Homo sapiens: one gene and its partner. The protein of the gene in region 1 interacts with the protein of each later gene in a biochemical or structural test. Each region holds a gene or a part of one and is shown in the gene's direction. Other genes may lie near its edges. The genes, in order: DNAJC3 and EIF2AK3.

Region 1 (3,884 bases):
ACAACTGAAGTTCTGAGTTTTTATAGGGAATTTCATGTAACAAGACTGGTTTAGAAACGTAAAGTTGCGCAGTCAACATAAATAAATACAGAATGCCATGTTCTCCACTTCTAAGTAAAGACAGTGGGCAGCTTCTGTTTCTCCTTCTATCAAGGCTTCACCCTATCTTAAAGGTCTGTGGTGCCTCCCACGTGGGACCTGTCTGCTGGTATGTGTTAAACAGCAGACCGGCCCTTCTACCAGATCTTGATGCCTCTGATTTTCTCCTGCCTACAAGAAAATACAGGCAAGGTTAGTCAGGTCTGGCTATATTTCCACTGTTGTTTCATTTAATAAGATGGCATCTCCTCTTGAGATATGTTCTTCTTACCTTTTAAGAAGATACTATTTAAGAAGTGAACTATTCAGTCTTTGTATACTGAATGCTTTTTCCCTAAAAAATGTTAATCAAGAATATTGAATATTTATGGCACTCTTGATGCTGCATTTGAAAGCTGAAGGAATTACTTTAGATAGATAGGAATTGCTACCTTTATTCTGGAAAGGTTTTGTTTCTGCCTCAAAGCATTTTGAAGTGTTTTAACCATTAAAGGGTCTAATTTTTTTTTCTTAATGAAATCAAGCATTTTAATTCACTGTGGGAGGCATCCTGACCACGGACATCCATAACAGCAAAGCACAAATCGTTTTCGTCTGTAGTCATATCCTGAAACATAGGTGGACAAATTTTTAACTGAGAGACAAAAATCACATAGTTGAATTGAGCAGAACACTTAAGTGCTTTCTGCATCTATTTAGGAGTCTATTTCTTACCAATAAACTTGACAACGCATTTGGAAAACTAGTGAACACCTTACAGCTTTCATTTTGCTTTAATGTTTCAATTCAAGCCGGTGTAAAAATAATTTCCAAGGCATTTCTGTTTATTCTTTAGTAATCTCACTACTGGCTATGTCAGCAATATCTTTTTCAATCTGGTTCCTTTTGTATATGATGTCACTGTGACCTCTTTGAAATATAGTGATGGCTTTTACCTACTTTGAAAAGAATTTTCACATAGAGTCAGAAAAAAAAGGAAATATCAAATCACTTGCCTTTCCACTTGGAGAGCACGACAGTTGCCAACAACAAGGGGTCAAGGGCCGCACAGGAGATGTGTGGGGGCCTGGCCACCTCCCACCTGCTGCCCAGAGGCTTGTTTGCATTTTCATTTTTTCTCCACTTGTAACAACCATAGTTTCAGCTCCTAAATTCTTATCATGGATTTACTTAGTCATCTTAACTGACCTGCAGTTACTTGCCTGTTTTCAGTGAAGAGAGAGAAGCAGCTCTGGTGCCACATGCCAGTGCCATGGAGGGAAATGAATTCTCTGCAATCTGTTGTTTCGCTGATTCATGAAGAAAGTAACAACTGTTGAGTTTCAGCCTTGATGGCTGTCGGCAGTTTTCTGGTGTCCACCCAAACGGAGAGACAGTCACTCCTGCTTACCCTAATGTGTGACTGAGAAGCAGCCTGGGTGTGTAAAGAGATAGTCATTCCCCCTGCCTGTCTCACTGTAGGGTAGCATTATCCACTGTAAAACCATACTACTTTCATTTTCCCTTGGGGACTACAGGTGCCAGGTAACCTTTTTTTTTTTTTTTTTTTTTTTTTGAGACAGAATCTTGCTCTGTTGCCCAGGCTGGAGTGCAGGGACACCTCCCGGGTTCAAGCAGTTCTCCTGCCTCAGCCTCCAAGTAGCTGGGACTATAGGCACGCACCACCATGCCTGGCTAATTTTTGTATTTTTAGTAGAAATGGGGTTTCACTGTGTTAGCCAGGATGGTCTTGATCTCCTGACCTTGTGATCTGCCCGCCTTGGCCTTCCAAAGTGTTGGGATTACAGGCGTGAGCCACTGCGCCTGGCCATCAGGTAACCTTTATGGCTCTTTCAGGAAAAGTGAAATCAGAGAGGCGTACCCTAGCCACAGCTGTTGTATTCTGCTCTTCTTTCCTTTTTGGTGAGCTTCATGGGTGGAGTTATCAGTGGTCTGTACTTTGTGGATATTTTGCCCAGCAGGAAGTATTAGACACATCAGTCTAGAAGCATTGTGAAAAGGTTCCAAAACGGGAGACAAAATTTAATTCATTCCTCAGTTCTGAAAGTTTGTGCTTTCTTACCATGAATAGATGAAAACTTGAAAAAAATCTTGACAGTTTACTAATGTGAATCAGATGTAACGTACTACTAATTCTACAATGCCTTTCTCTTTAGTCAGTATTAAAAATCTTTTTTAAAGTATTGGTATGAAAACAAATTTTTGTTGCCCTGATAATGGAATTTTAAAACTACCCACAGTTTAAGAGAAAACATAACTTGGTAAAAAAGGTAGCCAATAAAACCACAATTTGAAATTGATACCATTTTCTACTCACAATGGATGATGAAAAATTTCACCTTTAAATGGGTCAGAAGTTGTCTTTGACATTTACCATGAAAAAACTACATAAAATGGCTCCCTGGTGAGGTTACAGACACGGCCCTGGTGATGGGCGTTGCAAAGTTTTCACTGAGCACACAGCAATGGTATCACCTAGAGAAGTTCACGCAACTTTGTTGAATGTAGTTGACTTTTCCAAATTTATAAAGGAAGGAAGAAGGCAAATGTTAATTTGCCAACAACGAATATCCTTTTTCTAAATCAGATCATTCCTTTTTTGTTAGTGGCAGTTTATCCTGTAATTTCAAATGACGTTAAGAGGTGGGATTATTTGGGGGTTTTTTTTGTTTGTTTACAGATGATCTCATTTGCTGAATGATTGATTTAAGAGTAAAATTAGCCACTGCGTGGCTTTGTGTATAGTAACCGGTTTTGTTGCACTTGTCTGTGGCTGAAACACTTACCTGCAGTGGAAAGCCGAGCAAGGAGGAGGTAAACATTGGAGATGTTTGTGAAAATATTACTCTTGCTGTGAGGTTTTAGTTTGTTTTGAATGAGAAAAGACTAAGTAACTTAATCCATCTCAATGTAGTGTTTTAATAAAAAAGGAACCTAATATTTGAAATGGGTCTCAGACATGTCTACAAATATGGGTACTATTTTTATGCCCGTGTATTTTCACATTTAATAAAAATATTTATGGTCATATCAGTATTTCCTTGCTTTTGATTCATTTTTGTCCTTGAGTATAAAATTCTAAGAAAGTCCGTCTTAGGAAAAGTCTATTATTTCCAGCTTTGCTTCACGCAAAACCAGTGACTGAGGTGACAAAAGGGCTCTTCCTTTACACAAGTTGACAGGGAAGGTCAGAACACACAAAGCAGAAAGGGCTAAAATAAAATCTCTTAACCCTCAAAAGTCCTAGGACAACTAAGGACTTAAAAAGTGGACAAGTCTTCCATTTCAGTGCTATTAAAATGTAACACTTAAATTGGCTTTGTCTGAAGATTTTCTCTTCTCTTTTATACCCCATTTGTACATTTCTGTTAAGGTCCTAAGTTGGGAGGAAGGAAGGACACTATAGCCTATCTATCTCAAATTTCCAGCTACAAACAGAAGGAACTGCCTTCTCAGTTAATGTATTCTGCATATCTTAAGAAAGATCCAAGGAGAGCTACGATATGTAAATGTATACAGAACTTTTCCAGAAAGCTCAAACCTTCCTTTTTTTTTTTTTTTTTTTGAGACGGAGTCTTGCTCTGTTGCCCAGGCTGGAGTGCAGTGGCATGATCTCGGCTCACTGCAACCTCTGCCTCCCTGGTTCAAACAATTAACTGCCACAGCCTCCCGAGTAGCTGGGATTATAGGTGCCCACCACCACACCTGGCTAATTTTTTTGTATTTTTAGTAGAGATGGGGTTTCACCATCTTGGCCAGGCTGGTCTTGAATTCCTGACCTCGTG
Region 2 (7,000 bases), on another chromosome or scaffold:
TATTTCTCCCACTTTTAGCACAGACTGGCCACTCAGCTCTCCTAGCCCAATGGATGCACCATCAGTTAAAATACGCAGAATGGATCCTTTCGCTACAAAAGAACATATTGAAATCATAGCTCCTTCACCACAAAGAAGCAGGTCTTTTTCAGTAGGGATTTCCTGTGACCAGACAAGTTCATCTGAGAGCCAGTTCTCACCACTGGAATTCTCAGGAATGGACCATGAGGACATCAGTGAGTCAGTGGATGCAGCATACAACCTCCAGGACAGTTGCCTTACAGACTGTGATGTGGAAGATGGGACTATGGATGGCAATGATGAGGGGCACTCCTTTGAACTTTGTCCTTCTGAAGCTTCTCCTTATGTAAGGTCAAGGGAGAGAACCTCCTCTTCAATAGTATTTGAAGATTCTGGCTGTGATAATGCTTCCAGTAAAGAAGAGCCGAAAACTAATCGATTGCATATTGGCAACCATTGTGCTAATAAACTAACTGCTTTCAAGCCCACCAGTAGCAAATCTTCTTCTGAAGCTACATTGTCTATTTCTCCTCCAAGACCAACCACTTTAAGTTTAGATCTCACTAAAAACACCACAGAAAAACTCCAGCCCAGTTCACCAAAGGTGTATCTTTACATTCAAATGCAGCTGTGCAGAAAAGAAAACCTCAAAGACTGGATGAATGGACGATGTACCATAGAGGAGAGAGAGAGGAGCGTGTGTCTGCACATCTTCCTGCAGATCGCAGAGGCAGTGGAGTTTCTTCACAGTAAAGGACTGATGCACAGGGACCTCAAGGTCTGTATTTGTGGAGCATCACCCTTGGGGTTTCAATCTGACGTTTTGTGATTCAGAGCAGTACTTGCAGTACTCTGAAGGATCCTTAAGAGTTGGGGAGAGTAAAAGCATCTGAGAGCAGAGGTCTGAGAAAGTAGCCTCGAAGGGGCCTGCTGCAAGAATAAGAAGTCTTATGTCTGAAAACTTTAGGCAAACCATGCATTCATTGTCTTCAGTAATGTGTTTGTGTTCATTTTACTGTAAAAGGTATTCTCAGTAGTCCAGGTGAGGGAAAAAAAAGAAAAAAGAATCTTTAGGTAAAATCCACCATGAGCAGATATAGCCTGTTTTTTTGTTTGTTTGTTTGTTTTTGTTTTTCTATGGTTTTGAGTAACCCTGACACCAATACCTCCAGGGCTCTGAAGCAGCATGGTGAAAGGGATCCGAATGGAAGGAGAGACATGGGTTCCTTCATTAGCCAGCTTGAATTGGGGCAAATCTCCACACTTTTGCTTCTTTTTCTGAACTGTTTAGACTTTGGGGGAAGGGGTAAGAAGCCGAATGGGGAAAGGTAGCAAATAGTTAACAGATGACTGTTTACAGCTCTAAAACCTTGGATTCTATTTTCAATATATTCAGTAGTGAATTTTGCAGTAATATAATATGCAAAATTATTAAAGAGTCTTACTAAAACATGACATTTCCGTAGTAGTGTTTCTAAAAATAAGTACATGGAACTTTTATTTAACTAATTTCCCACATTCCATATACTCTTAGCCATCACCAGTAGATGTGGAGTGAATGTATAAATACTTTTCTGATGAAAGTAGCTTAAAGTCTTGATAGATGTGGATCCATTTTAAGTCTTTTCAGACTTAAAACAGACTTGTTTCAGGCACAAAAGTAGCTATTTGGACACAAGTTATTTTCTTCTAAAATCAGCAGTAGGTTTTCAAATTCTTGGGTATATTTTAAGAGTTTTAGGGTAACAAGAATAGGAATTAGAAATAATTCTTATTTTTTAATATAATTGTTATTTAGTCATATAAATCATTATGCTTCAGTGATTTTGACGTGGGCCCAAACTGATTGCCAAGAATTGTTCTGCACTGAATGAAAAGTTCAGAGATGAATTATTTGGTTGGATTGGAGAAGACAGTTTACAGGAGACCACACACCCCTAATTTGAGAGAATACTAGCAGTTAGGTTTGAATATAGTAAACGCTTATCACTAGGTGGGAAACAGCTAGCTGAAATACACATTCTTCTTGTACTTAACACTTGCTGTACACACAAATGCCAACTTGAAAGACAATGAATCATGTTTTCACTAATAATGAATATTCTTCTGCTAATTTTATAATGTAAATGAGATATTGGTAAATATCCATTTAATGCTACAATGTTGTCTAAAGATTTTTCTGTAATTGTCTATGCACCAGAAAAATTGCAAGAAGAAAGTTAATATTCCTGTTAGTTTTTCTAGAAATCAGAAAGTTTTATTCCTTTCTAAATAGAAGACAATTCCTTTTAAAGATTTCTAGTGCGCCACCCCCAACCAAAAAAAAAAAAAAAGCCAAGATTTTTGTTCCTGGGTGAAAAAGCTGTACATTTTGCTACGTTCTGACCTAAATCTTTGAGCTCAATGTTAAACCTTCTAGGCCCTCTCCCCCTGTTATATTTTGGTCACATTTTTGTCTTCAGGACTTTGGCTCCTGCCTCTTCAGACTAACTTCTAGTCTTCTATTTTCTCCACTCTGAACTTTTCTCAGTTCCTCTTGATATACACTGTTCTGACAGAAACCTGGTCCTTCTTCATTATTCTCATCACACCTGGATTATTTATTCTGTGGTTTCTATGGGGTATGAACCATATCTGTTTCTTTTACCTGTTATAGTCTCAGTACAATGCCTGAATGTTCTAGATGGTCATACCATTTATTTTGAATTTTATTTTCTTTGCACTCAAAAGTGTTTATACTGACTTAACCAGAAAAGGAAATCTGTTGGCCCACATGGCTAAACTGTTGAGAATTCAGGTAAAGCTTTAGCTGAGATCAAGTGATTTAGCCAGAACCTGGTTTCTGTCCTCCCCATTTCTTGTTTCTATTTAAGTCTTTTGGAGTTGGTGGGGTAGAGGGTGGAGAGAAAAGTATTGCTTTTTCCCACTATCAGAAATTTTATTCTACTTAAACCAAGGACACCTACCCATCCCTCAACAATCCCTAGCCAGGCAATGGGATTCCATGGATTGGCGTAAGCAACTTTTAGAGCATGGATGCCTTCCACACTAACCGTGGGGTTTTGCTGCACAGTCAGCAAGAAGGAAGTTCCCAAAGTAAAGTCAAGATACTTCTGCTGGAAGCACAGGGAGATAGATACTGGAGAGCCAAAAAGCTTGTCTATTATAGGGTTCAGTAAATAACAACTGCCATCAGATGTTGGGAGTTGGGAAGAAAGATGACATTTAATGCAGGATAGTCTATTATTGCCTCTGGTACAAAGTTATTTATTGGAGAGCTGCAGATTATTACCATAGATCTTATACACAATAACTTCATGCTTCCAAGTCAAAATCGTTTAATGGTATTTTAGAGTTTGGGAATGCAATGTTATTTTCTGGCAGTATTTGAAACATGATGAAATTCAATTTCATGAGCTAAATGGCTTCCTTTTTCCTCATTTCAAGGGCTATGAATGGTGGTCATATTACCCGCAGAGTAGAGTAGACTCTGAGGGAGAGGTGATGTATTTCATGTAGGGCACCTTGGGTTTGAGAAGCCCATGAGACCTCTGGTTAGATGTATTCAATAAACAGTGTAATATGAGTTTAGAACTCAGGGCAGAGATCTGGGAGTAGATATAGTCTTGAGAACATAGAGGTTTTACGAGAGGCAGCATAGAGTAGTAGTGAAGAGCTCTTATCCCTTCTGATAATCTATATCCCCCTCAGACGCAAACCAAAAGATCAGTCTGTTTCATTCATTCACCAAATAGTAATTAGCTACCATAGAGCAAGAACTGGACTGAAATCTGGGCACGTGGCAGTGGATCACAAGGTCCTTTCCTCATAGAGCCAGACTGCTCAGGTCTGAATCCCTGCTTCACCACTTGCTAGTTGGGTAACCTTGGGCAATTTGTTTAACTTCTGGGCCTCACTTTCTATGTCTGTAAAATGGGGTTAGTACTCATCTAATGGGGTTGTAGTACATGAGTTAGTAGTAGTAAACTGCTTTGAACAGTGCCTAGCACATTGCAAGTTCTATTTATGAACTAGTTATTATTAGTTATAATTATTAAGGCTTTAAGTCATAAGTGTAGAGATGCTTGCCTGGGAAGAATATATAGAATAATAAGATTGAGGATTAAGTACCATGATCCCTAGGGAATGTGCACCTCAAAGGGTTTAAGTAGATGTTCAATAAATACTAGCACTCTTTGCTACCCTTCCCTTTTCTTTACTAGCAGTACTTGTCTGGCACAGAAAAATTGTCACTATTTTCCTGTTAGCCCATTTTAAAAAGAAATATGCTTGAAAATATCTAGTTTGTTGTATTTTTTCTTTGTAGTCTTTTAAATAATTCTCTTTACTTTTTCGCCTCCATGCACACCCACTGTACTTTTGTCTGTTGTATTCTTTCCAGCCATCCAACATATTCTTTACAATGGATGATGTGGTCAAGGTTGGAGACTTTGGGTTAGTGACTGCAATGGACCAGGATGAGGAAGAGCAGACGGTTCTGACCCCAATGCCAGCTTATGCCAGACACACAGGACAAGTAGGGACCAAACTGTATATGAGCCCAGAGCAGGTGAGTTTTTCAGACCTTTACTTACTAGCACAGCAGCAGATGTACCTGATGAATCTCTTCTCATGTTTTCATTAAAATACCCAGTAATCTAAAACCCAGTAAGTCTGAAAATTATGAAAACTGGCAGTAGTGTTCCAGTAGTGGAATAGTGACACAGCTAAGATGTAGTTTCTACAACCTGAATTGGGGCTGGATTAAGAAAAATACAACACATAAAATGCACTCACCCCCTGAACAAGCACCTGACAGCAACCAGGAATTTGGAAAGAGACTTTGAATGCCACCCTCCCAAACTTAACTCGTTTGCCTTGTGTAGACTGTGTTGGAACTGTTTTCAGAGCCAGCTAGACCCAGAGGTACTATACTGAGCTGCCCTTTGTGGTCACTCATAGGCAACTTCCAGCATGTACCACAGTAGGAAATAGAGGCACACAGGCCGGCAGGTGTTGCCTTGTGGGCTGCTTGGCCTTCACAGGAAAAGCACTGTAATCAGGGCAGGGACTGGAAGAGCTGGGGGAGCAGGGCATCCTGGAAGCATCAGGCGAGCATGCTCAGCCACCACCAGGCAAATGATCTTCACAAGCTTCTCTATGCTTAGAGCAGCGGGTCTCGGACGTTTTGGGCTCAGTACATACTTACACTTGTAGAAATAACTGAGAACCCAAAAGGTTTTCTTAACAAAATTTTATCTATCGATATTTGTTATATTAGAAGTTAAAAGAGAAATTTATAAAACTTTATTAAATCAACTAAATAACAATGAAACCTATCACATCTTAAGATATTTTTATGAAAAATAAGTATTTTCTAAAACAAAAAAAAATTACAGGCACCAATTCCCCTGCAAAAAAAAAAAATTAGAGTGACATTTGTTTACATTTTTGCCAGTCTCTTTAAAGCTAACTTATAAAAGTGCTACATTCTTCTATCTGCTTTTGTGTTCAATCTGTTGCAGTATGTTATTTTGGCTGAAGTACATGAGGAAATCTGGCCTCGCACAGATATGTAGTTGGAAAAAAGAGCAATATTTCATTTCAAGTAATTGTAGATATTTTGTCTTTGATAGTATATCAAAACTTAGTAAATGATAGTTTCTTAGAAGTCATTTACACTGTGGAATCTAAAACCATTCATGAATATTTTGTACTCTGGTACTTTTAACATCCCTTGGTCCATTTTGTACTTTGAATGGATCTTTTTACCCATGCTTGACTTTACATTGTGCATTAGTCATTTGGAAACTATTGGTTCCCTAAGTTTGGCAACTATTCCAAAAGTCATCACAGTTCATTATGTAATATAAAAAGTCACTTTGGTTAATACAACCACCAATCTCACCAGAAAAGGCTTTATGTACATATTAGGAGGCTATCAAATTCCCACTGGTAGACTGAAATCTTCCAAAATTTTAATTTTCACTTAAAAGCTCAACTTTTAACATTGGCAACAAATACTGTTAGTTTTCCTTGAAATGCCATTCTCACATTGTTCATCTTTTTTTCTCTTTAAAAAAAAAATGTTGTTTGTTTTTTTTTTTGAGATGGGGTCTTGCTGTGTTACCCAGACTAGTTTTGAACTTCTGGCCGCAAGCCATCCTTGAACCTCAGCCTCCCAAAGTGCTGGGATCACAGGCGTGAGCTACCATGCCCGGTCTCATTGTTCATCTTTAAGAAAGTGTCCCTCGGCCAGTCGCAGTGGCTCACACCTATAATCCCAGCACTTTGGGAGGCCGAGGCAGGCAGATTACCTGAGGCCAGGAGTTCGAGACCAGCATGGCCAACATGGTGAAACCCCGTCTCTTGTAAAAACACAAAAATTAGCTGGGCATAGTAACGCATGCCTGTAGTCCCAGCTACCCAGGAGGCTGAGGCACAAGAATTGCTTGAACTTAGGAGGCAGAGGTTGCAGTGAGCCGAGATTGCACCACTGCACTTCAGCCTGGGTGACAGAGCAAGACTCCATCTCGAAAAAAAAACTCTCTGTCAAGTATCCAAGTCTCAATAACTGTAGTTTGTCTACCAATTATTCTTTCAAGTCAAAATGGTGTTCTATGAAAAGAGCAGCTAGAGCATATTGTAACTCAAATAATTGCACAAATGCTAATGATACTCACAAGCTAATCTATGCTTACATCAGCAGGTCTCAACTTCTTAAAATTAGTTTGTTTTTTAAATTGACTCATAATTGTACATATTTATGGGGTACATACTGTCGTTTTAATACATACACTATTTAGTGATTGGATCAGGGTTATTAGCATATCCAAGGTATCAAACTTGGAGACAACTATTGTACTTTGGTATGGAGCATAAATGTTTTTCTGAATATTTTCCATTTTGTCAGATTATTAAAAAGGTGTATATTTAAAGGTTGAGATTTAATAAATTAATAATTTCTACTGCTAAGGAC

Evidence for each region.
Region 2: the proteins of DNAJC3 (region 1) and EIF2AK3 form a complex in vitro, tested with the Homo sapiens proteins (one study listed by BioGRID).

What each region holds. Positions count from the first base shown.
Region 1 is NC_000013.11:95,791,854-95,795,737, forward strand, and holds the end of DNAJC3 (dnaJ homolog subfamily C member 3 precursor), read left to right. Parts: 3' UTR 1-3,135; downstream 3,136-3,884. UniProt on the Homo sapiens protein: Involved in the unfolded protein response (UPR) during endoplasmic reticulum (ER) stress.
Region 2 is NC_000002.12:88,568,465-88,575,464, reverse strand, and holds part of EIF2AK3 (eukaryotic translation initiation factor 2-alpha kinase 3 isoform 1 precursor), read left to right. Parts: exon of another isoform or gene 1-18; coding exon 19-799; exon of another isoform or gene 800-951; intron 952-4,423; coding exon 4,424-4,591; intron 4,592-7,000. UniProt on the Homo sapiens protein: Metabolic-stress sensing protein kinase that phosphorylates the alpha subunit of eukaryotic translation initiation factor 2 (EIF2S1/eIF-2-alpha) in response to various stress, such as unfolded protein response (UPR).